Regions from separate parts of the Homo sapiens genome. Here all the other regions are reported to be linked to region 2. Evidence: microRNA targets listed by miRTarBase, many of them from high-throughput screens and not tested one by one. Region 2 holds a microRNA gene; each other region holds the end of a gene's coding sequence.

Region 1 (7,182 bases), not on the chromosome of region 2:
AGTTAAATATTTTAACTGTCACCCTAAAGCAGGTTTATATAATGTTTTAAATTACTTGCTCCAAGAAGATAGTAAATAACTAGAACCCCAACCCTTCCAATCCCTGTGGTCCTCTTTCCACCAGATCTTTTATTAATAAAAATGGCAAGTTCTCCTTCTATCTAAAATATTAATAAATTTAAATTTATGCAATATTTTTCTTTCTCTAGTAAAATAACAAAAAATTAATACACAAAACAAGAGAGATTGCACCCCCCGCCCCCACCTCAAATTAAGATATGTTCAGCCTGGAAAACATAGTGAGACCCTTTCTCTATAAAAAATTTTTTTTTAATTAGCCAGGTGTGGTGGCATGCACCTGTAGTCCCAGCTCCTCGGTAGGTTGGGATGGGAGGATTGCTTGAGCCTGGGAGGCTGAGGCTGCAGTGAGCCATGGTCACCACTACACCGTAGCCTGGGTGACAGAGCGAGACCCTATTTTAAAAATAAAAAGTATGCTGGGCGCGGTGCCTCACACCTATAATCCCAGCACTTTGGGCGGCCGAGGCAGACAGATGACGAGGTCAGGAGTTTGAGACCAGCCTGACCAACATGGTGAAACCCCATCTCTACTAAAAATACAAAAATTAGCTGGGCGTGGTGGCACGTGCCTGTAATACCAGCTACTCAGGAGGCTGAGGCAGGAGAATTGCATGAACCCCGGAGGCGGAGGTTGCAGTGAGCCGAGATTGCACTATTGCACTCCAGCCTGGGCAACAGAGTGAGACTCTGTCTCAAAAATAAATAAATAAATAAATAAATAATAAAAATAATTAAATAAGTACATGGCACATAGTGTTTGCAATTATTATTATCATAGGAAGTTACCTCAGATACCAAATGCTATTGGATTAAGGGATAGGTGAAATTATTATGTCATATTAATAATAAAAAACATGATAGCCACTATTTAGAGAAAGCTGATGTTTAATATTTCTGTGACATCAATTCACCACTAAAACCCTTGATCTTTCTCTAAATAATAGATGTTAATTTGAGTTTAATGCATGGCTTTGAACATCTTAAGTTTATGAACTGGTACCTAAAATATCAAACTGTCCTGCTTTTGAAAAATCACTTTTATCACTATTTAAATCTCTACACAGATTCACCAGGCATGTAAACTCATCTGCAGAAAATGTAAACGTCATGTGACAGATCTAACAGGGCAAGTGGTACAGGAGGGAACCAGGCGCTACAGACTGTGTAATGAGTGTCTTGCAGAATTTGGCATAGACAGCCTCCCCATTGACTTGGAAGCTGAACAACATCTTATGTCCCCATCAGATGGAGATAAGGATTCCAGATGGCACTTGAGTGAAGATGAGAATAGATCCTATGTGGAGATTGTAGAAGATGGGTCTGCTGATCTGGTCATCCAACAGGTTGATGATAGTGAAGAAGAAGAAGAAAAAGAAATTAAGCCCAACATTAGGTAGCTGTAATGTGAACCAACAGAGCTGGCATGTCTGCAATTTACATTGACTTCCTGTATCTCTCTCTTTCTATGGTCGGAGTCTAGTTAACAAATTTATCACACTGACTTTAAAGAAATGATCTGATATAACTTGCATGCTTTCTGAACAGGCCATTGTATCCATTCTGAACTTTGTTGCCCTAAAATGTGTTGCTGCACTGGAAAGAAAGAACTAGCTTGAGTTGGCTTGATGGATGAACAATTATCCTCTTACTTTCATTACAATCCTCTTACTTTATTCCAGAGATACCTTTTTCTTTTAATATTGGAGGATCTACTTAGCAAACTTTTTTCAAAGAAAATACTTTAAATAAATTCACCACAACCAAACTTTATGTAAGACAATTTCAAGGTGTTTCAAAAACACATAACTACCAATGTTTAATTTCACAGGGAACCAGTTAAGAGCACATTTAAGGATCTGGCAACCCACCTTACTAAACAAATTAGTCTTTCTATTAATTTGAGATCTGAAACAACCTGTCATTACTCTGATATCCTGAACGTTTAAGGATTATGGAAGAAGACTAAAGTGTTTGAAATCATTCATATTTGAAATTTTTATCATTAGCTTAAAAATTACTCTCAGTATTGTTAAAAAAAAAAAAAAGTAGAGGCTGGCCAAAGATTATATACAGATATTTTCTTAAAGCAGGAAACTAATGTTGCCTAAAAGTCAAGGTAGTTTGTGAAGACAATCTGTCAATATGGTTGTCCATCTCTCTAAAGAAAAGCAGGCTGGGCGCTGTGGCTCATGCCTATAATCCCAATACTTTGGGAGGCCGAGGCAGGCGGATCACAAGGTCAGGAGTTTGAAACCAGCCTGGCCAACATGGTGAAACCTCGTCTCTACTAAAAAATACAAAATTAGCCGGGCATGGTGGCGGGTGCCTATAATCCCAGCTACTCGGGAGGCTGAGGCAGGAGAATCGATTGAACCTGGAAGGCAGAAGTTGCAGTGAGCCGAGATCACACCATTGCACTCCAGCCTGGGCAACAAGAGCGAAACTCCGTCTCAAAAAAAAAAGGAAAACAAACTAGGAGGTTCTTACCATATGTGAGTGATTTCTAACGTTTATGTAGTGCTATATTATTTATAAAGTACTCTCTCATGTATTTTCTCAGTGAGGTGGATACTATCTCCGATTTACAAATGAGGAAATTAAGGTCAGAAAGTCTGAGAGAGAAAACTGATGATTGGACAGGATCTGATTTTAAACAATCCTCTTTCAGCCTTCTCTCCCTGTATGTCTCCTGAAATGGCAAAGAATAGAAGTCAAACCTCACCAGTTGGCAGTCATTATAAAAATAAGCCAATCAGAATTAGAAAGTATGAAAGGAGGAATTGAATCATTTTCAACAACATACAATATCTTGATCTAGAGATTTTCAAATAATGCTAAGTAATGTCCCTACAGTACCTATTGGTATGTTTTTATGTCACGTTATTTATATGTAAATTTAAAGTATAAAACTATTTGAACAAATTATTCACTTAAATATGTTGAACATTTTTGCTTCTCTTGTTTATATAATATTTTCAAAACAAACTTTTCTCCTAGTATACAAAGTTTAAACTTCTCCCCTTTGGGCTGGGCCCAGTGGCTCACGCCTGTAATCCCAGCACTTTGGGAGGCTGAGGCAGGTGGATCACCGAGGTCGGGAGTTTGAGACCAGCCTGACCAACATGGAGAAACCCCGTCTCTACTAAAAATACAAAATTAGCCGGGCGTGGTGGTGCATGCCTGTAATCCCAGCTACTCAGAAGGCTGAGGCAGGAGGATAGCTTGAACCCAGGAGGCAGAGGCTGCGGTGGGCTGAGGTTGCGCCATTGCACTCCAGCCTGGGCAACAAGAGCGAAACTCCGTCTCAAAAAAAAAAAAAAAAAAAACTTCTCCCCTGCATAAATTATGAAACATTCCAAAATTACAGCTAAATTAGAGAAGCATTGTTTCAGTTCTAAAGGTAAAATCTAAATATCCGAAGTAAAGAACTGAGCTTCATAAAGGTCTCTTCTGCAAGTTATCACAGTGAAGCTTGATAGAATTTCACTGTATATGGAGAGGCTCCATCTATTTTACTGTTTTCTTTTTTGTTTTTGTTTTTTTTTCGAGACGGAGTCTCGCTCTGTCGCCCAGGCTGGAGTGCAGTGGTGCAATCTCAGCTCACTGCAAGCTCCACCTCCCGGGTTCTCGCCATTCTCCTGCCTCAGCCTCCCGAGTAGCTGGGACTTACAGGCGCCCACCACCACTCCCAGCTAATTTTTTGTATTTTTAATAGAGATGGGGTTTCACCGTGTTAGCCAGGATGGTCTCAATCTCCTGATCTCGTGATCCGCCCCCCTCGGCCTCCCAAAGTGCTGGGATTACAGGCGTGAGCCACTGCGCCCAGCCAATTTTACTGTATTTTTAAATGCCATGACATACCTCAAAATTATCCTTTTTATGTTACTATTTTCTCTTGTTCTTTCATTAATTATTGTCCTTGATACCAATTTCTAGGCTAAATTGGTTACTTTCTTTTAAAAAATTTAAAAATAGATGAATAACCACTTGTTTCATGGTACTTAATTGAGACTTTTTCAAGATTCCCCTGATGGCACATTTGCAGTTGCTTCAAGACTGGATGATGTGCATTGAGTTCTCTGTTCTCCCAACATGGCTGTTCCTAAATCAGGATTCTGGTTTTTTTGAGATGGACTCTCGCTCTGTTGTCCAAGCTGGAGTGCAGTGGCGTGATCTCGCTCACCACAACCTCTGCCTCCCGGGTTCAAGCGATTCTCCTGCCTCAGCCTCCTGAGTAGCCGGGACTACAGGCATGTGCCACCATGCCTGGCTAATTTTTGTATTTTTAGTAGAGACAGGGTTTCGCTATGTTGGCCAGGCTGGTCTCGAACTCCTGACCTCGTGATCTGCCCGCCTCAGCCTCCCAAAGTGCTGGGATTACAGGCGTGAGCCAGCACGCCCGGCCTAAATCAGGATTCTTAACAATTAAAGTGTATCTGAATGAGGAAGGAAACGCTTGTCATTCTCTAGTCTTACCCAATTAATACTGACACCTTTTGAAATTAAAACCTGATTTTTTAGTTGTTGGAGCCAGTAGGAAAAATGGCTGATTTGAACTTTTTTCCTATAAATGAAGTAGTGCTTGCATGTGTGTACTCTAATGCACTTTAGTCTATGATCTAAATGTCCTTTTATGCTATTATCTTCTGCATGCAAACTTTACATACATCAGCATGAATATCCAACATTCACTGAACACAGTGCCACCAGCACTTGTAATTGCCTTTTCAGAAATAATGCTTTCTCATAATTGTTTATAACGAGCATCAAACTATCCCCACAAAATGATCAAGTTCACCAAACTAGACAAAGAATCTGTTGTATCATTTTAACATCATAGAAGAACATTTAAGACATGTTTGTAAGTTGTAAATAATGACTCCAGTTATAGCATATATATCTAAGACGTTAGAGACCAGTTATTTTCTAGAGTGAAACTGTCTATTGATGATTGAGAAAATTGAATTCTTTGGTTTTTACATGTGGGCAAATGTTACATAGGGGTATAATCTGTTTAAATAAGCTTTATTTATGCCAAGGATTTTTTTTTTAATATCAAGACTTGGTTAGACCAAAGTTTGCTCTTGCAGGAATGCCATTTATCAGCTTCTGAATGCCCTTCTAACTCCATTACCCTCAAGAGTGTCTGGGTATAGGATGAAGCATTACAAAAAGAAAGCACCACTGCAGTCATGCCTAGTGTCTGGGAGAAACAAAATGGACTAGACCTGCAGTTTAAAATAATTTAACCCGAGAAACTCTTCAAATGAATTGTTTCCTAAAGATGCTCAAATTTAAGGGATAAACTCTAAAATCAGAGCTGCTGTGGTTAAAGTCCCCCACAAACCTTTCCCCAGACACCTCTGCAGAACTCAGGTGCACAATGTTGAAAACCATGGAATTAGACAACTTCCTGAATTCCCTTTGAGCCTTGCAGCCTCATTTCGTTACTCCTGTTACTCACGGTGCTTATAAGCAGGTAACCATATGGTCTCTTAGTGAAGCAAATCACATCCTTAGCACATGATGTTCCTTCTATGGGTATCAGATCTTAAGACTTTTTAAAATTTAGGAACAAATGTTTCAATATTATATTTTCAGTAATGCAATCAAAATAAGCATAGTTACTGTTTTCTGTACGGCTAAGTACTGCCTAATGGATGAAAGAAGTTTGGTGCTTCAATTATTTATGAGCTCAGAACTCAATTCATTAAAGTTATTTTGCCAAGTCATGCCAAGATATATTGAAATTTCCACTCATATTGGTTTTTAAAATTTTTTTTAGTCCTAAAATTAATAAGTATGGAAAATCACTAAAAGCAGTGTAGGATAAGGTGTGTTTAACTGGCCGGGCACGGTGGCTCATGCCTGTAATCCTAGCACTTTGGGAGGCCGAGGCGGGCGGATCACTTAAGGCCAGGTGTTCGAGACCATCCTGGCCAACATGGTGAAACCCCGTCTCTAGTAAAAATACAAAAAATAGCTGGGCATGATGGTGGGTGCCTGTAATCCCAGGTACTCGGGAGGCTGAGGCAGGAGAATCGCTTGAACCCGGGAGGTGGAGGTTGCAGTGGCCGAGATCGCACCACTGCACTCCAGCCTGGGTGACAGAGCGAGACTCCATCAAAAAAAAAAAAAAAAAAAAAAAAGATGTGTTTAACTGGGAAGGGTGATAATAATAGAATAATAGGTACAGGAGGACCAAACTTTAGATTATAAACCAGAAAGTTTTGTTATTTTATATAAGTGTATCAGTATTACTATTTATCATTTATATAGCATTTTATATTTGCAAAGTGTTTAATAATTTTTGTTATTCTTTACATATATATGAAATAGGACAGTTATCCCACATGAACGGTAAATAAATTGAGGCACAGAACAGTAAAAAAACCTCAGGGTCAGGCGTGGTGGCTCACACCTGTAATCCCAGCACTTTGGGAGGCCAAGGCGGGTGGATCACTTTAGGTCAAGAGTTGGAGACCAGCCTGGGGCAATATAGTGAAACCCCTTCTCTACTAAAAATACAAAAATTAGCCAGGCATGGTGGTGGGCACCTGTAATCCCAGCTACTCTGGGGGCTGAGACAGGAGAATTGCTTGAACTCAGGAGGCGGAGGTTGCAGTGAGCCAAGATCACGCTACTGCACTCCAGGCTGGGTGACAGAGCGAGACTCCACCTCAAAAAAAAAAAAAAAAAAAAAAAAAAGAACCTAAGACAACCCAGTGAAATGGTAGCAAAAAATAGGAAATATAATGATCACATTTTCTGAATCCTAGACCATCAGCCTAATTCACTGAGGTGTGTTGTGTATCACTCTATTTTATAGATGATTTTATATAAGTAACAGTGGATTGTTTTAAAGCTGACGTCATTGTATGTGGATACATTCTATATGGAATAAATGTTATGTAAAGGATGTGACTTTAGTTATGTCACAGGATCCTTAGGGTGTTGCTTTGCCACCAGCCAGAAACCTCTTGGCCGGTGGCTCCTCTGCTTGGGTTTTGCTTGTGCCTGCTGGGCTCATTCCACCCATGTGGACTGGCAGGCTGTGGTCCACTGGTGGTACCAGCCTGGATCTCATGCCTGCCGAGGGTG
Region 2 (7,192 bases):
AGCAGAGAGGAGATGTGATGAGGAGACATGACGAGGGAGTCGTGATGGGCACACCCATGGCCAGCAGGCCCAGCCTGTGCCTCTCGGAGGTCCGCACTTCCTGCCCAGTGGGAGCAGGCACCTGGCGTGGGCTCCAGCTGAGGTGTGCACGCGGGCGGGTGGGGTCCAGCCCAGAGTGTGGTCTTTATGTAAATCAGGGTGGAGCTCAGGTGCACTGGCTCACACATGTTAATCTGAGTGCTTTGGGAGGCCAAGGTGGGAGGCTGGCTTGAGCCCAGGAATTCGAGACTGCAGTGAGCTGTGATCACACCACTGTACCCCAGCCTGGATGAGAGTGAGACCCTCAAAAAAAAAAATCAATAGATCAGGGCTGCGCCCCAGGTCTTCTACCTCGGGGGTGGGTGATAGGCTCGTCCAGCTGGTGGTCCCAGGACAAGCTCTCTGTCCCTCCCAGGTGTTCCATAGTCTAGGACAGTGCAGGAACTGCAGACTTGTCAAGAACTGGGGAGTGGTCCGGGCGTGGTGGCCGAGGTGGGTGGATCATCTGAGTCAGGAGTCCGAGACCAGCCTGGCCAACATGGTGAAACCCCGTCTCTACTAAAAATACAAAAATTAGCCGGGCATGGTGGTGCACGTCTGTAATCCCAGCTACCCGAGAGGCTGCGGCAGAACTGCTTGAACCCGCGGGGGGCAGAGGTTGCAGTAAGCCAAGATCGCGCCATTGCACTCCAGCCTGGGCAATAGAGTGAGACTCTGTCTCAAAAAAAAAAAAAAAAAACGGGGGGGGGGGAGTGAAAGGGAGGGAGGAAGAGGGTGAGGGTTTGGAGGGGCCCAACCAGGCCCACCTGTGGTTGCATGGATCTCTAGCCACCTGCAAAGCCAGAAGGTACCTTGAGCTGACAGGTCCGTGTTGTTCAATGGTTCTATAGGGAAAATCCTGCCCCCATGCCAGGTTGTTGATCACCCACGGTCAATGCTGGAAGGGGCAGCTGCTGCTCTGGGCCAGAAGGAGAGGCTTCCTGGCACCGTGAGGAGGCTGGCCTGGCTGCTCACAGCTCCCGGCAGAAATGCGGAGCGGGGTCCTCACTGCAGCACCCGGGCTTTTCAAAACAGTGAAGCCCTGAGTCCAAGAAGGCAAACCACAGAGCGGAGGTGGCCGTGGGGCTGCCCTGTGGGCAGAGGGGAGGCTGCGCAGGCCTAGTGGCTGCAGGAAGCTCCAGTGGCCGCCAAGAACCTCCAGGCCCATCACCACGAGGAGGGCCCCCACTGCAGCCAGGGCTTCCAGATGGGCAGAGGCGGTGGGAAGCAAGCAGGAAGCGGAGACTGGTTGGCTGTGGCCCTGACCCCTCTTCTCCTGATGGAGTGTGGGGGGCTGGGGCTGCCTGGGGTCACCCACTCAGGTCTCTCACTCCTGCCCTCCCAGGAAGTGGACAGTTCCCACAGCCTGGACCCAGAGGCCCGCAGGCACTGACCGCGGCCCGGAGGCCAAGCTACAGTGCGTTTCCCGAGGGAGGCCACGGGGCACCTGGACGAGGGCAGCTTAGGACGCTCGGCTCTCGTCTCAGGAATCCCAGGGCAGAAGTCCAGCGAGGCGGCAGGTGGCCGGCCCGTCCCCAGCCTCTCTTCCCACTGAGGAGAGATCCAAGGGCCGGCGGAGTGGTGGTGTCTGCTGCTCTGCGGGAACACGGGCACCAGGCCCAGCAGTGCATGGATGCGGCAGGCCCCGCGTGCGATGCCCTGGTCCCCACGACTGTTTCTTCCCACGCCGCGGAGTGCATTCCCTCATGCTCCCGTCCTGTGAACACGCGCTGCAGCCTCTGCCCTCCTGGGGCTCCCTGAGAGAGGGGGCACCCCTTGCTCCCATCACAGTCCTCCTGCAGCCTGGGGCCCCGCCCAGCACGCCCACCAAAGGGGAGGCCCGCTCTCCTGTCAGAGCCAGGACAGCCTCTCCAAGAACTCTTCCTGGGCCCCAGAGAGGAGCCCCCTAGGTTCGCTTCTCGCCAGCCGCTGCCCCATCTTGCGTCTCCACCCAAGGGCCCCTCGGCGCCCCCACCTGGAGCCCCCACTATCGAGATATGTCTGGCGGATACCACACACAAGGGGGCTGTAGCGGGTTGGGGAACAGGCCAACCCCTCCCAGACTGCAGGGACAGCTAGTCTCACACAGCTAAGACCAAGATGATGTAAGGAAATGAATGACAGTAAACCCAGCCCTTACCGAACCCACCTCCCGAGCAGGGAGGACCTGCAGGAAACAGAGGCTCCCATTCCTGTTCACCTCTGATCTCAGGGGCAGACACCAGCCCATCACTGCCGTCTGCTGACCACCCCTGCAGACGGCCTGGGCCTTGGATGTCCTGCTCCTCTGGGCTCCCCAGGCTGTGTGAAACGGAGGAGTGCAGGGGTCAGGACCCCTCGACTTTCTTGGGGGCAATCAGGCCGTTTGTAACGTCCTGATACAGCAGAGCTGGGGACTGGGGTTACGAAAGACACCACCAGGTGGAGCCTTCAGATGGGACCTCCCAGCAGGGCCTCCAGGCTGGGGACCTTCAGGCAGGTACCTCCAGGCTGGGGACCTTCGGGCAGGTACCTCCAGGTTGGGGACCTCCCAGCAGGGCCTCCAGGCTGGGGACCTTCAGGCAGGCACCTCCAGGCTGGGGACCTCGCAGCAGGGAACTCCAGGTTGGGAACCTCCAGGCTGGAGACATTCCAGTAGGGACCTTCTGGTTGGGGATCACCAGGTTAAGAACCTCCAGGTTGGGGACCTCCAGACTGGGGACCTCCCAGCACGGACCCCCAGGTTGGGAACCTCCAGGCTGAGGATCTCCCAGCAGGGACCTCTAGTGTGGACCTCCAGGCTGGCACCCATGGGGCAGGTTTCTTTCTTCTTCCCCAGAAGCCTTTTCATCGTGGCAGTAGGACCTGACCTTGACAGAGATGATATTGCGGATTTCAGTGACTGAACCAGAGTCGGAAGCTGAAGGGCTCTGCCCAGCCTTCCTGTCTTCATCCATTAAGTCTGATCGGCAGTGGTGGCCACCTGGGCTGCTGCTTTGACAAGATGCCAGTAGTTGGAGCTGGGACCCCAGGGAGCACTGTCCATCCACCGCACAGGAGTAGGGCTTCAGCAGCTGTCAGTCATCAATCATTTCCCCATGCTGTTGGATGGGAGAGGGACAATCTGCCAGCCCCAGTGTGACTGGCTTTGCTGCCACCGCAGTGCCCTCTGGGAACCCCGGCAGGTCGGCTGGAGGCAGGACACCACCCCCCTAACCCCTCCCTACTTGTCACCAGACAGAAACCACAGCTCACCAACAACCATACACAAACAGCGCACTAAAAGAAAGCATGCGGCAAAAATACCCGCCCAGCGAGAACTGTGCCTGGCACAGGGAAACACACTGGGATGCGCGCCCTTCCGCGGGGCGAGGCTGGGTTTTGGGGTATAAACTGAGTCCTGGGGAGCAGGAGCCTGAGGGGCACCCAGGGCAGCTCCCTCGGCCTGGGTCACAAGGTTCGATCCTCCGCGGGGGTGGCAGGAAAGCCCAAGTCCCTCGGCACACCCAGGTGACAGCGATGACGGCCCACAGGCGTGGCGCCTGGGCCACATCGGACAGGCCATGTCCTGGAGCACTCGAGGCCCCCTGGACAGGGCAACCAACCCTGAGTCCACCGGAGTCTGCTCGCAGACCACCAGGAGCCCCGCTGCACTGTTCGTGAGCCACGGTGGTGACGGCAGCTCAGGAGGGAAGGACCAGAAGCCTGGCCCCGTCCCACGAGGACAGACGCAGGCCTGCGGGGAGGCATGTCCCCACCCACGGGCGCCTCCTGGACCACGAGCTCCTCTTTCTCCTGCATCGCCTCAGACCCCACCCAGGGGTTCCAAGGTCAGGAGCCTGGTCCCACGTCCCACAGCCCTCTCATGGGGCACCCGTACGGATTCTGTTCCAATTTAAAGAAAACCTTAATCAGATTTGTCACCTCAATTATTAGAATCCCACGGCGTTAACTCACAGTAGTAAACTGCTTTTTCTGAGAAACAAGAGTTTTTTAAATTAAGCCTTTTATTTTAACGCAATCGCAGGTGACGGCCGTCGTGAGGGAACACGGGACGCCCACGTGCCCTCCACCACCTCCTCCCACGGCAACCCTCGCAGAGTAGCCAGGACCACATTCGGATCCGGACTCTGAAATGACAGTCCCACAACCAACAGCATCGATGTGGTCTTCTTAATGATCAGAAACACACAGGGGATTAATTTACTCTTATTCTGCAAAATAAACAAGCTCTCAAATTCTTTAAAGGTGAATCCCCCCCAACCGTCCTCCCTCCCCAGTTACTTCCTCCCTAGGACACCAGTGGAACATCCCATGCTCTCCCCCTTCCATGTTGATACCGAATAAAACACACTGCATCAGAAGACCCACGCATACGAGTCCAGGGGCTGCTACAAAGCGCGGCGACGTCTCCGCGGCGAGCTGGCCACTCCATGGTCCCGGCGCAGACACTGGGGCAGGCGCCGGCTCTGTCGTCGAGGCGCTCACAGGCAGGCACACGTGAGCTCCTGGAGGACAGGGAGAGCGGCCGCCCCGCCCCTGCGGAGCACAGGACGCTTCCTGCCACCCCTGCAGAGCATGGGACGCTTCCTGCCATGGTGCCGTGGCAATGGGTGGCACCTGCCTGTGGCCCCTTCTCAGAAGGACGTTTTAAACGCGTGAGGTCTGATGCACAGCCACAGGGAGACACAGACGAGCAGATGTGGGCATCCGAGTATTTACAAGGTCTGGTGGCTCCTGCAGCCGCGACACGGGCTGAGCGCAAGTGATGTGTGAGGTGTCCCCAACAGATGGCACGGGGAGCGCCCACACCCGCCACCGCGGGGTCTGCGGAAGCTCGTGTCAGCTGGAGGTTAGGGAAGACGCACAGGGGCTCATTCTCCACCCAGGTTCAAACTCCCTGAACTCACGAGACCCAGGCTGAAGACATGGACAGACTCCCAGCCCCAGCGCCCCTCTGACAGCACACCCGAGGCCTCCTGGGAACCTGGGACCCCTTGCAGGGTCCCCCGCAGGCTCCTTCCTAGGAAGGAGGTTCCTGCCCTACTCCACATTTCTCTCCATCCAACTTCCAACTCCTTCCCACTGGGCCCTGGAGAACATGACGAAGACTGTGGGGGCCTCCTCCCAGGAAACACACACACACACACACACACACACACACACACACACACACACACACACACACCAGCAACGCGCCCAGACCCCAATCCCTGGCAGCCCAACTCCTCGTTCTACAGAGAAGGGGTGAGGATCTCCAGGGGTGACTGCTCACATCTCGGCACATGTAGAAGGCAGGGCTGGAGCAGCGGCCCCTGCAGCCCAGGCCAGGGGACTGGAGGCCCTTCCACAGCAGCCCTTTCCTTTTGATACACGGTCTTGCTCTGTGGCCCAGGCTGGACTGCAGCGGCACCATCACAGTTTACTGCAGCCTCGACCTCCTGGGCTCAAGCAATCCTCCCACCTCAGCCTCCCAAGCAACCAGGACTATAGGCATGTGCCACCATGCCTGGCCAGTTTTTAAATTTTTTATAGAGATAGGACCAAGGCTGCTCTCACACTCCTGAGCTAAAGTGATCCTCCTTGCCGGCCTCCCAAAGTGCTGGGATTATAGGCATGAGTTTTCAAACTCCTGGGCCACAGCGATCCTTCCGGCCAGCCTCAAAGTGCTGGGATTATAGGTGTGAGCCCACGGTGCACAGCCCCCACTTTCTTCCTAAAAACCCTGCAGCTTGGCTGACAGTGGGACCTGCCTCCCTACTCCCGCCTGCAGGAGCTCAGAAGCCTCAGCTCAAGAGGAGCCCTTGCCAGAGACGTGGGACCAGGAATGGGCCCCACAGAGCCCTGCCCGTGGGCTTCCTAAACAGCCTGAGTTCAGCTGCACACACCAACGATGTAGGCGGGTTGCAATAAACAGCAAGAAACGGACCCATGGGACAGGAGAGACGCAGGAGCCCCAGGGGACAAGAGAGACGCAGAAGCCCCAGGTGCCTTTGGTGGCCAGTGCTGAATTTCGCAAGCAACATTAGAAACTTTTTATTTCTGCTTTTCTCTTAACCCAAGGGTGAAAATGGAAACCTGTGGTGTGGGGCAGTCTGCTGAACGCTAGGATGAGGGCGGGGAACAAGAGCCACCCTCCCCGCTGCCACCTGGCCCACAAGAGCCTTCCCAGGGGCTCTCCAGTTTCAGCCCCTCCTTGCCGAGCCAGACAGCGCTGCTGGCCTGGACGGGAGGGACACCCAGGCTGACTGAGTGGGGGAGCACTTTTTATAAAGATCAGATCAGGTTTCTGAAAACAAAAAGCCCCCAGATCCTGCGAGCGGCTATTTAGACTTGATGCACACTCCACCATTTCACAGGTATCCATTCCCCAGCGTCACACATGCCCATCCCCAGCTGGAGCACACTCTTCAGTGTGGAGGACAGAAGGAGCAGGCAGAAGACGACCCCGGGGCGCTGGGGGAGCAGGTGCGGGCTCCCACATACCTGCTCTATTCTGGTTGGAGGTGTCACAAGGGAAGGCGTGGAGATGCTGCCAATGGGGACATGCGGCAAATGCGCCCCCTTCGCCCCACACCTGTCAGCAGCTAGCAACAACTCAGTCCTGACTGCTGGAGACCCAGCCCCAGGGGCAGGCAGGTTGGGATCCGCTGCTCAGGAGGCAGCTCTGGGCCAGGGTGGAGGCCGGAGAAGCCAGGCACCTCCCCGCAGAGCTCTGCAGAGGCCAGTCTGCTAACGGCTTCATCACTGGAGTGGCGGCTGCTAAGAGCAAAGCCTGTGCTTGGTACCTCAGGGACCTAAATAAGAACCACTCCCTGTTCCAAGGATCCCAAGTGGGGGGAGGACGAGAAGCAGCTGAGCCTATAGGGCACAGGAAACTCACTGGGGTGTGGGTGCTGGGGACTTGGGTTGGGTGCTGTACTGAGCAAGCCTGTTGTGGGGGGACACTGCTGGCGGTGGGTGACGAGGTGCACAAGTCAGGTCAGGGAGGGGGACTCTGCCCTGGCACCACTGGGGCACAGGACACTGGCTCAGGTGTCAGCTGAGGACCCCCCAGTGTAGGCGAGGGGCTCACAGCCGCTGAGGCCTGTGGACACAGCTCCGTGTATTCTGAGGTCGCAGAGCACAAGAGGTT
Region 3 (7,192 bases), not on the chromosome of region 2:
ACATCTCCAAGTGGAGGACCTTCCAGACAGCACTCTTCCTGGACCGGCTCCTGGATGGGTCCCCGCTGCCGCAGGGTGAGTCCCTGCAGCTGATGGGGGCGGCCCAGGGGCTGGGGTGCAACAGCGGCCCAGCCCTGACCTGCCCCCTGCGCTGCAGAGGTGGTGATGAGCCTGTCCAAGTGCTACTCCTCCCTGCTGGACTCGATGAACGCTGAGATCCGCATCCGCTGGCTGCAGATTGTGGTCCGCAACGACTACTATCCTGACCTCCACAGGGTGCGGCGCTTCCTGGAGAGCCAGGTGCGGTCACCTGCCCAGGGGGCCAGCCTGGAACGGCCTAGCCGTGCGGACTGGGAGTCCCACCCGACTCCCTAGTCTGAGCCCTTGGGGCAGGCCAGGCACATTCTGGAGAATGGGGCGGGGAAGACGTAGGGGTCTGTTGGGAGTGGGGGCATGCACCGGGTGCAGGTACCAGAGGGCAGCCTGGACTCCACCAGTTCTTGGAGAAACTGTGGAAGGGACCAGCTGGGAGCAGGAGTTTAGGGTCCAGGCCACCACAGCCTGCTGGGCCCTGGGCCTTCAGCGTCCTGGTCTGGGCAGAGGGGACGTCCCAGCTCCTCAGAGGGAGGCCAGAGCCCTCAGGCCCGTGGGCCCTGGCTGCCCTGCTCCCTGTATGTGCTCCCTCCAGCCCAGGTTCCCTGGAGATGGGGCCTCCATGGTTGGCCTGGAAGGGCAGGGTGGAGGTGGGAGGCTAATGGTAGGCCTCCTGGCCACCGGAGTCCAGGCCACAGCCCTAATGATGAAGCTGGGAAGCCAGGGGCAGGAGGGCCGCCTGGCCGGGCTGGCAGGGTGGGCTGGCTCGAGGGGCCTGGGGAGCCCACCAGTGTGACCGAGTGCCCCTCCTGCAGATGTCACGCATGTACACCATCCCGCTGTACGAGGACCTCTGCACCGGTGCCCTCAAGTCCTTCGCGCTGGAGGTCTTCTACCAGACGCAGGGCCGGCTGCACCCCAACCTGCGCAGAGCCATCCAGCAGATCCTGTCCCAGGGCCTGGGCTCCAGCACAGAGCCCGCCTCAGAGCCCAGCACGGAGCTGGGCAAGGCTGAAGCAGACACAGACTCGGACGCACAGGCCCTGCTGCTTGGGGACGAGGCCCCCAGCAGTGCCATCTCTCTCAGGGACGTCAATGTGTCTGCCTAGCCCTGTTGGCGGGCTGACCCTCGACCTCCCAGACACCACAATTGTGCCTTCTGTGGGCCAGGCCTGCCATGACTGCGTCTCGGCTCTGGCCATGAGCTCTGCCCAGGCCCACAAGCCCCTCCCCTGGGCTCTCCCAGGCAGGGAGAATGGGGAGAGGGACCTCCTTGTGTCTGGCAGAGACCTGTGGACCTGGCCTCCCCACTCCCAGCTCTCTTGCACTGCAGGCCCTGGGGCCAGCCCGCACACACCATGCCTCCTGTCTCAACACTGACAGCTGTGCCTAGCCCCGGATGCCAGCACCTGCCAGGTGCCGCCCCGGGGCAAGGGCCCCAGCAGCCCTATGGTGACCGCCACACTGTGCCTTAATGTCTGCCGGGGGCCCAGGCTGTGCTGTCCCTGCAGCACGCCTCCTTGCAGGGATCTGAGCCACCCTCCCCGCACAGCCCTGCACCCCGCCCCTGGGGTTGGCAGCCTCAGTTGGCCCCTGGCAGAGGAACAAGGACACAGACATTCCCTCAGTGTGGGGGGCAGGGGACACAGGGAGAGGATGGTTGTCCCTGGGGAGGGCCCTCTGGCCCCAGGCAACCTTAGCCCCTCAGAACAGGGAGTCCCAGGACCCAGGGAGAGTGTGGGGACAGGACAGCCTGTCTCTTGTAGCTTCCTGGGGTGGGAGGCACAGGGGCAAAGCAATACCCCAGGGAAAGTGGGAGGTGGTGCTGGTGCTCTCTCCAGGCCCACCATGCTGGGAGAGGCGGCCAGAGCCTGGGGCCTCCAGCCTGGGACTGCTGTGATGGGGTATCACGGTGATGGTCCCATTAAACTTCCACTCTGCAAACCTGATCTCCTGCGCTCTTTCTCGCGACTCTTGTCCTCTGCATCTTCCTGGCTGTGTAGGGTGGGCTGGCCTGCCGGGACTTGGGGCCTGGAGCTGGTCAGGAGCTGGGTGTGGCCCCCTCCTCTGATACATAAGCCCGAGAGCAGGCTCCCCGAATCCTGCCCAGCCCCTTGGCTGGACCCCCTGGGCCTGAGTAGCCTCTGGATGTCACAGGAAAGCCATGTGTCACCTTCACTCTGGGCCTTCACCTGTGGCTTAAGCCAAATCCCGGCCTCAGTGGTGATCCTTTCCCAAGATGGGTACAAGGTGACAGGCATGTTTTGTTTTGGAGAACTGAGATTTCCATTTTCCCAGGCGATAGGTGTCGCTGCCCTTCACAGTCCCCAAGGATGTGGCGCCACCATCTCAGTGCCACGCACACCTGGCCAACATGCCGTGGCCCAGAAGCAGCACGTCTCTTCTCCCAACCCGCTGGCCAGGCCCAGTCACAGCCCCACTCCACACATGGCAGCCAGGAAGTGGGGAGGGCAGGAGGTGCTGGGCAAATAACCCTGATACCATCACTGTCCAGTCCCCAGTCACCAAATGTCCCACTCACCCTCCTTCCTGTTCTGGATGCCCCGCCCCTCCCCTCCCCTCCCAAGGACATATGAGTCCCCTCCAGTGGCGGTGGCAACTCTGGTCTAGGGTCTGGGGCCGTCTCTACATGTGTTGCTTCATGTACCTTCTTCACATCAGGTCTGGGGGAGGCGCCACCCCATCCAGAGACCTAGGAACTAGAAGACTGCCACTGCCCCTCACACCCAGGGATAGGATGACTGCAGTAACCCCTGTGAAAGCGGGTATGGAGGGCACCTGGCAGCCCCTGCTGCATGGCCATCTAAAGTCTTGCCAGGCAGGCACAGCTAGGGCCCCTGCCTGGGAGTGGACACCCCACTCCCCCAAGTCATGTTCTCTGTGGCCTGGGGCTCCAGCCTTGGGAGGACCCCTTTCCTGTTTCTTAACCATGCTTGATGGTGTCCTCAAAGGAGCCCTGCTCAGTGGCAGAACTGCTTTCTCAGCCTCTTCCCCGCCAAGGTTGTTTTCAAGTCCCAGCAGTCACAGACTTTCATCCTGGGCTCTTCTTTCTTTTGCAATTCAGCTCTCGAAATGACTCTGTGGTCTGCGGGTGACTCCACTCCACGTGCCTACAGCCACGCCCACAGCGCCACCTCCGGACGCTGCTGAGCTGCGCACCTGTGCCTGACACCTGGCTTTGGGAAACTCAGCAGCAGTGCCCAGCGTCATGACCCTGGGGGCAGGAGGGCATCTGGATCCAGGATGGCACCCTCACCACAATCTGTCTTGGCTCTGTGCCCGCCCGTGGGGTACACAGGAGGGCTCTTTCAGCCCTAAGTCCTTGTGTTCCTGACCTTTGTTCCTCTTCCACCCAGCTTGCAAGTGCAGAATTTTTTTTTAGCTCGTCGCTTCCCTGCAGTCCCTTGTCCAATGCAGCCTCCGGCCGATACTCAGGCCAGTGTTGTTTCCCAACCTCTCCACTAGATACGCACACTTAGCTCACGGTCTGCCTCATGAGTCATCCCAGTTGAGCTTTACCAAATGTTTTGCCCCACCTAACAGCCTGCCCACATTCCAAATCCTGGCAGGTCGCACGTTTTATTAGCACAGCACCCCTCTCCTAGCGGCCAGCTTCTCTATTAGGCCACGTTATGCTCCAGCCACACAACTATGAAGCGCAGACGTCTCACACAACAAAGCTTTCTCATGCTGCAGGCCCACCTCAGGCTGGCAGGGGAAGGGGGGATTCTCTTCAATGTGACCACTCTCGGACCCGTACCGATGAACAGAGATCTCAAATGTTTCCAGGCACCTTGCCAGGGATAAGAGAGCTGTTGAGGGGCTCACACTGGCAGTGGAAGTTCTAAGGGGCCTACAACCACAGGGGCTGCAACCCCACCATATGCACAAAAGCGGGGGCAGATGGCAAACAGCACTAATGACAACGACGGAGCTGAGGCCAGAATGTGAGAGAGATCTGCATTTTGGGGATTAGGGCCTAGTCAGGCAGGTAGGAGATGATGTTCAAAAAGGGAAAAGAAGCGTGATGAAAGACTGGTTTCTACAGAGATAGATTAGAAAGCTGAAGCCTGAAAAAACAGTGAAGGAGACCCATGCAAATTTCTAGGCCCTGGAGGTCCAAATAAGGTTTTCTAAGTCCCTCAGGCCATGACAGGTTCAGTCCAGACTTGTCTCCCAGAGTGTTTCTCTGCCATCCCTACTCTAACTGGGACTTATTGGTGGTGTTTCTCTCCTAAGGCCAGATGCTTTGCACAGAACATTAGGAAACTCCAGATGTAAAGGTAAGGCACAACTGAGAATCACCTGCCCAGGGCAGCAACACAGTGTGAAGGAAAACAGGCCACTCAACCCAAACTTACACCTGAGACAGAGGCAACAGAAAAATCAGAAAAGGACTTTAGAACACATATAATCAAAATCTCAGACCTAAAGACGACTTTTGAAATAAACCATAACATATGAAGAGGCACTTATGAAACAAGAACAGGTAGTTTATAAAAAAGAACCAGTCAGAGACCCTGGAAATTTTTTAAAAAGCAATTACTAAAATAAAAAATGAAAACTCAGTCAACAGTGCTCTGGTTTGGATGTTCCCTCCAAAATTCATGTTGAAATTTAATTGCCATTGTGATGGTATTAAGAGGTGGAACCATTAAGAAGCGATTAGGCCATGAGGGTTCTGCCTTGATGAATGCATTAATGTCATTATCAGAGTGGGTTCGTTATCATGAGCATGTGTTGTAAAAATGAATTTAGCTGTCTCTTGCTGTGTGTCCTCTTGCTCTTCCATCTTCCCCCATGGAATGGTGTGGCAAGAAGGCCTTTACCAGATGCCAGCCCCTCGCCCTTGGACTTCCCAGCCTCCAGAACTATAAGAAATACATTTATTTTCATTATAAATTACCCAGTCCGTGGTATTGTTATAGGAACAGAAAATGCACTTGGGGATATTAGGTCGTGGAGAGTAAAAAAAAAAAAAAAATAAGTTCCAGTCAATCAAGGCATCCTCATTCTCAACATTGCCTGCATTCTACCCTCCAGGGGTCCCCTCCATGGCCCTTCATCTGCCCCCACCCCGCAACTCAGCCTCATTTCTTCAGCCATTTTCTCCCCCACATCTCTCTTCCCTTCCCATCAGACCTTCACATCCTGCAAGCTAAGCCACCTCAACTAGCCATGCCCTCAGGGCTCTTACTCAAGCACCCACCAAGATGTTTTTCCTAACAAAGACTGTCCTTTTACTAAGAGGAATCTGATGTCAGCTGTTAGTCTCCGCTCCCCCCCACCCCCCATCTCTCGGAATAATCACCTGGTCAGAGAGAAGCCCAAGAGCACGGACATGCCAGCTAAAGGTGGAGCTTGGCAAGGGTGTCCACAGAGTGGCCAGGCCCAGCACAGATCCGAGGGGCTTTTAACAGGCACAGGCAGAGTGCTAAGGAGATCACTACCACCCACCCACCCATCCAGCCAGGCCCAGATAAACCTCTCCTTGTTCCAAATGAATGAGCAAACAGAAAAATTCCAGTGTGGAGGGAATACAACACCCACAATGCAGAAAATAGCCCACATCCAAAATATGCTCCCCTCAGATAACTAGTCAACTGTGCAAACTATCTGCATAATCCTCACAATAAAGTTGAAGAACACAAAACCACTTCATACAAAGAGTTAGGAAAAAAATTCCTATAAGGAGGAGCATGTACCATATTTATTCCCACTCTGTTTACTAAGCATGTATTATAATGAGAAAAAAAGCTCAATCTAAAATATTGCCAACAAAGAATCCATTCCTCACGTTGCAGTAAATGAAGCGGGCTGAGGTCAGCCTCCTTTTATGCTGGCTGCCCCAACTCTAAGGAGTTGATGCGTCCTACTGTTAACAGCGGAGGATGTCCAGGTTCTTGGCGTCTTAAATAAAGAATTGGACAAAACACACACAGAGAGCAAAGAAGGAATGAAGGGATTTATTGAAAATGAAAGTACACTCCACAGTGTGGGGGTGAGCCTGAGCATAGGAGCACAAAAGCCCTGTTACAGAACTTCAGAGAGTTTAAATACCCTCTAGGTGATTCCATTGGTTACTTGGGGCACACGTTATGTAGATGGAGAGCCTGTTACAGAACTTCTGAGAGTTTAAACACCCTCTAGGTGATTCCATTGGTTACTTGGGGCACACGTTATGCAGATGGAGAGGATGAAGTTACAAAGTCATTTGCTTGGCCTATGTCCTATGGAGAAGGTATTTCCTATCATAACTGAAGTGTGAATCAGCCTATGTTCCCTGCACTCAGACCCTATTTTCCTGCCTCCTACCTACAGCTGTGTGGTCCTGAGCTGTCACCTCTTCCCTTTGAAGCTCAGGTTCCTCATCGGTAAAATGAGGCAGAAATACTCACTGCTGAGATGTGTGGGGATCGCACAAACTCAGTGTCTCAACATGTTGTACGTGTGTTTTGGCCCTCTGAGCCCTTGAGGGCTGCCCCAGGTGGAACCCTCTTCACTTTTCTTGGAGAACTGACCATGGGTTGCAGCAAAGCCTAAAATGGTTCCTGTTTCAGCCCTGCCTGGGAAGATTCAGCTGGAACCTTTAGGCTAGGAAAAGGTTCGAGAAGGACCCTACCCCCACTGTGCCCGACCTGAGACAAATCCACAGAAAAGCAATCCTTGCTAACTCTGGGCAGTATGTGGACAAGATACTAATTTTTAATCTCTGCATCTCCATGAGAATGCAAGGACCAGCACAGTGAAGTGCCCAATGATTGCCCCCTGAACAAACGGAGATGTCAAGTTCAGAAAAAATCCTGGCTGAGGAAGACAGGGAACATTCCCTTGAAAAACAAGGGCAGTCATCCAGACAGAGCAAGAGGAGTGGCAGGATAAGAGGAGGCAGACAGGGTTGATTCCACAGGGCTCCTCCTCAACACCCATGAACCTGAGAAGTGGTCAGATGCGTTTCAGGCCACTGGCCAGCAGTGGGGTCATGGCGGGAACTAGTCCCACCTGAAGGACTCTCATCTCCCTACAATCCCCAAACGCTGAGGCATGGGGATGCTCTTCCCTCCTTGAAGTGAGGGCC

What was found. The annotated mature microRNA hsa-miR-339-5p reads UCCCUGUCCUCCAGGAGCUCACG and lies in region 2 at 4,557-4,579, opposite strand. An mRNA with a match to its seed (bases 2 to 7 or 8) in the 3' UTR can be bound and repressed. Matches are read on the target gene's strand: a 7mer-m8 pairs with bases 2 to 8, a 7mer-A1 pairs with bases 2 to 7 and ends in A, and an 8mer does both.
Region 1: miRTarBase lists ZBTB8A as a target of hsa-miR-339-5p. Seed matches in the 3' UTR shown: 7mer-A1 at 1,906-1,912 and 7mer-m8 at 4,375-4,381.
Region 3: miRTarBase lists RNPEPL1 as a target of hsa-miR-339-5p. Seed matches in the 3' UTR shown: 7mer-A1 at 1,739-1,745 and 7mer-A1 at 1,803-1,809.

Annotation. Positions count from the first base shown.
Region 1 is chr1:32,598,942-32,606,123 of GRCh38, forward strand. ZBTB8A (zinc finger and BTB domain containing 8A) reads left to right here. Exons shown (of 5, transcript NM_001040441.3): 5 at 1,146-7,000. The coding sequence ends at 1,478. Among named protein-coding and RNA genes, the nearest start is that of ZBTB8OS, 48 kb to the right of the region's middle.
Region 2 is chr7:1,018,434-1,025,625 of GRCh38, forward strand. It overlaps MIR339 (microRNA 339), which reads right to left and starts at 4,593; the gene lies at 4,500-4,593. The region is part of intron 2 of CHLSN (cholesin); the gene reads right to left. RefSeq lists an enhancer at 4,704-5,261.
Region 3 is chr2:240,576,691-240,583,882 of GRCh38, forward strand. It overlaps RNPEPL1 (arginyl aminopeptidase like 1), which reads left to right. Exons shown (of 11, transcript NM_018226.6): 9 at 1-75; 10 at 158-300; 11 at 909-4,682. The coding sequence ends at 1,202. It overlaps CAPN10-DT (CAPN10 divergent transcript), which reads right to left. Exons shown (of 1, transcript NR_103792.1): 1 at 6,060-7,192. Among named protein-coding and RNA genes, the nearest start is that of CAPN10-DT, 6.0 kb to the right of the region's middle. RefSeq lists enhancers at 2,522-2,816, 3,314-3,433.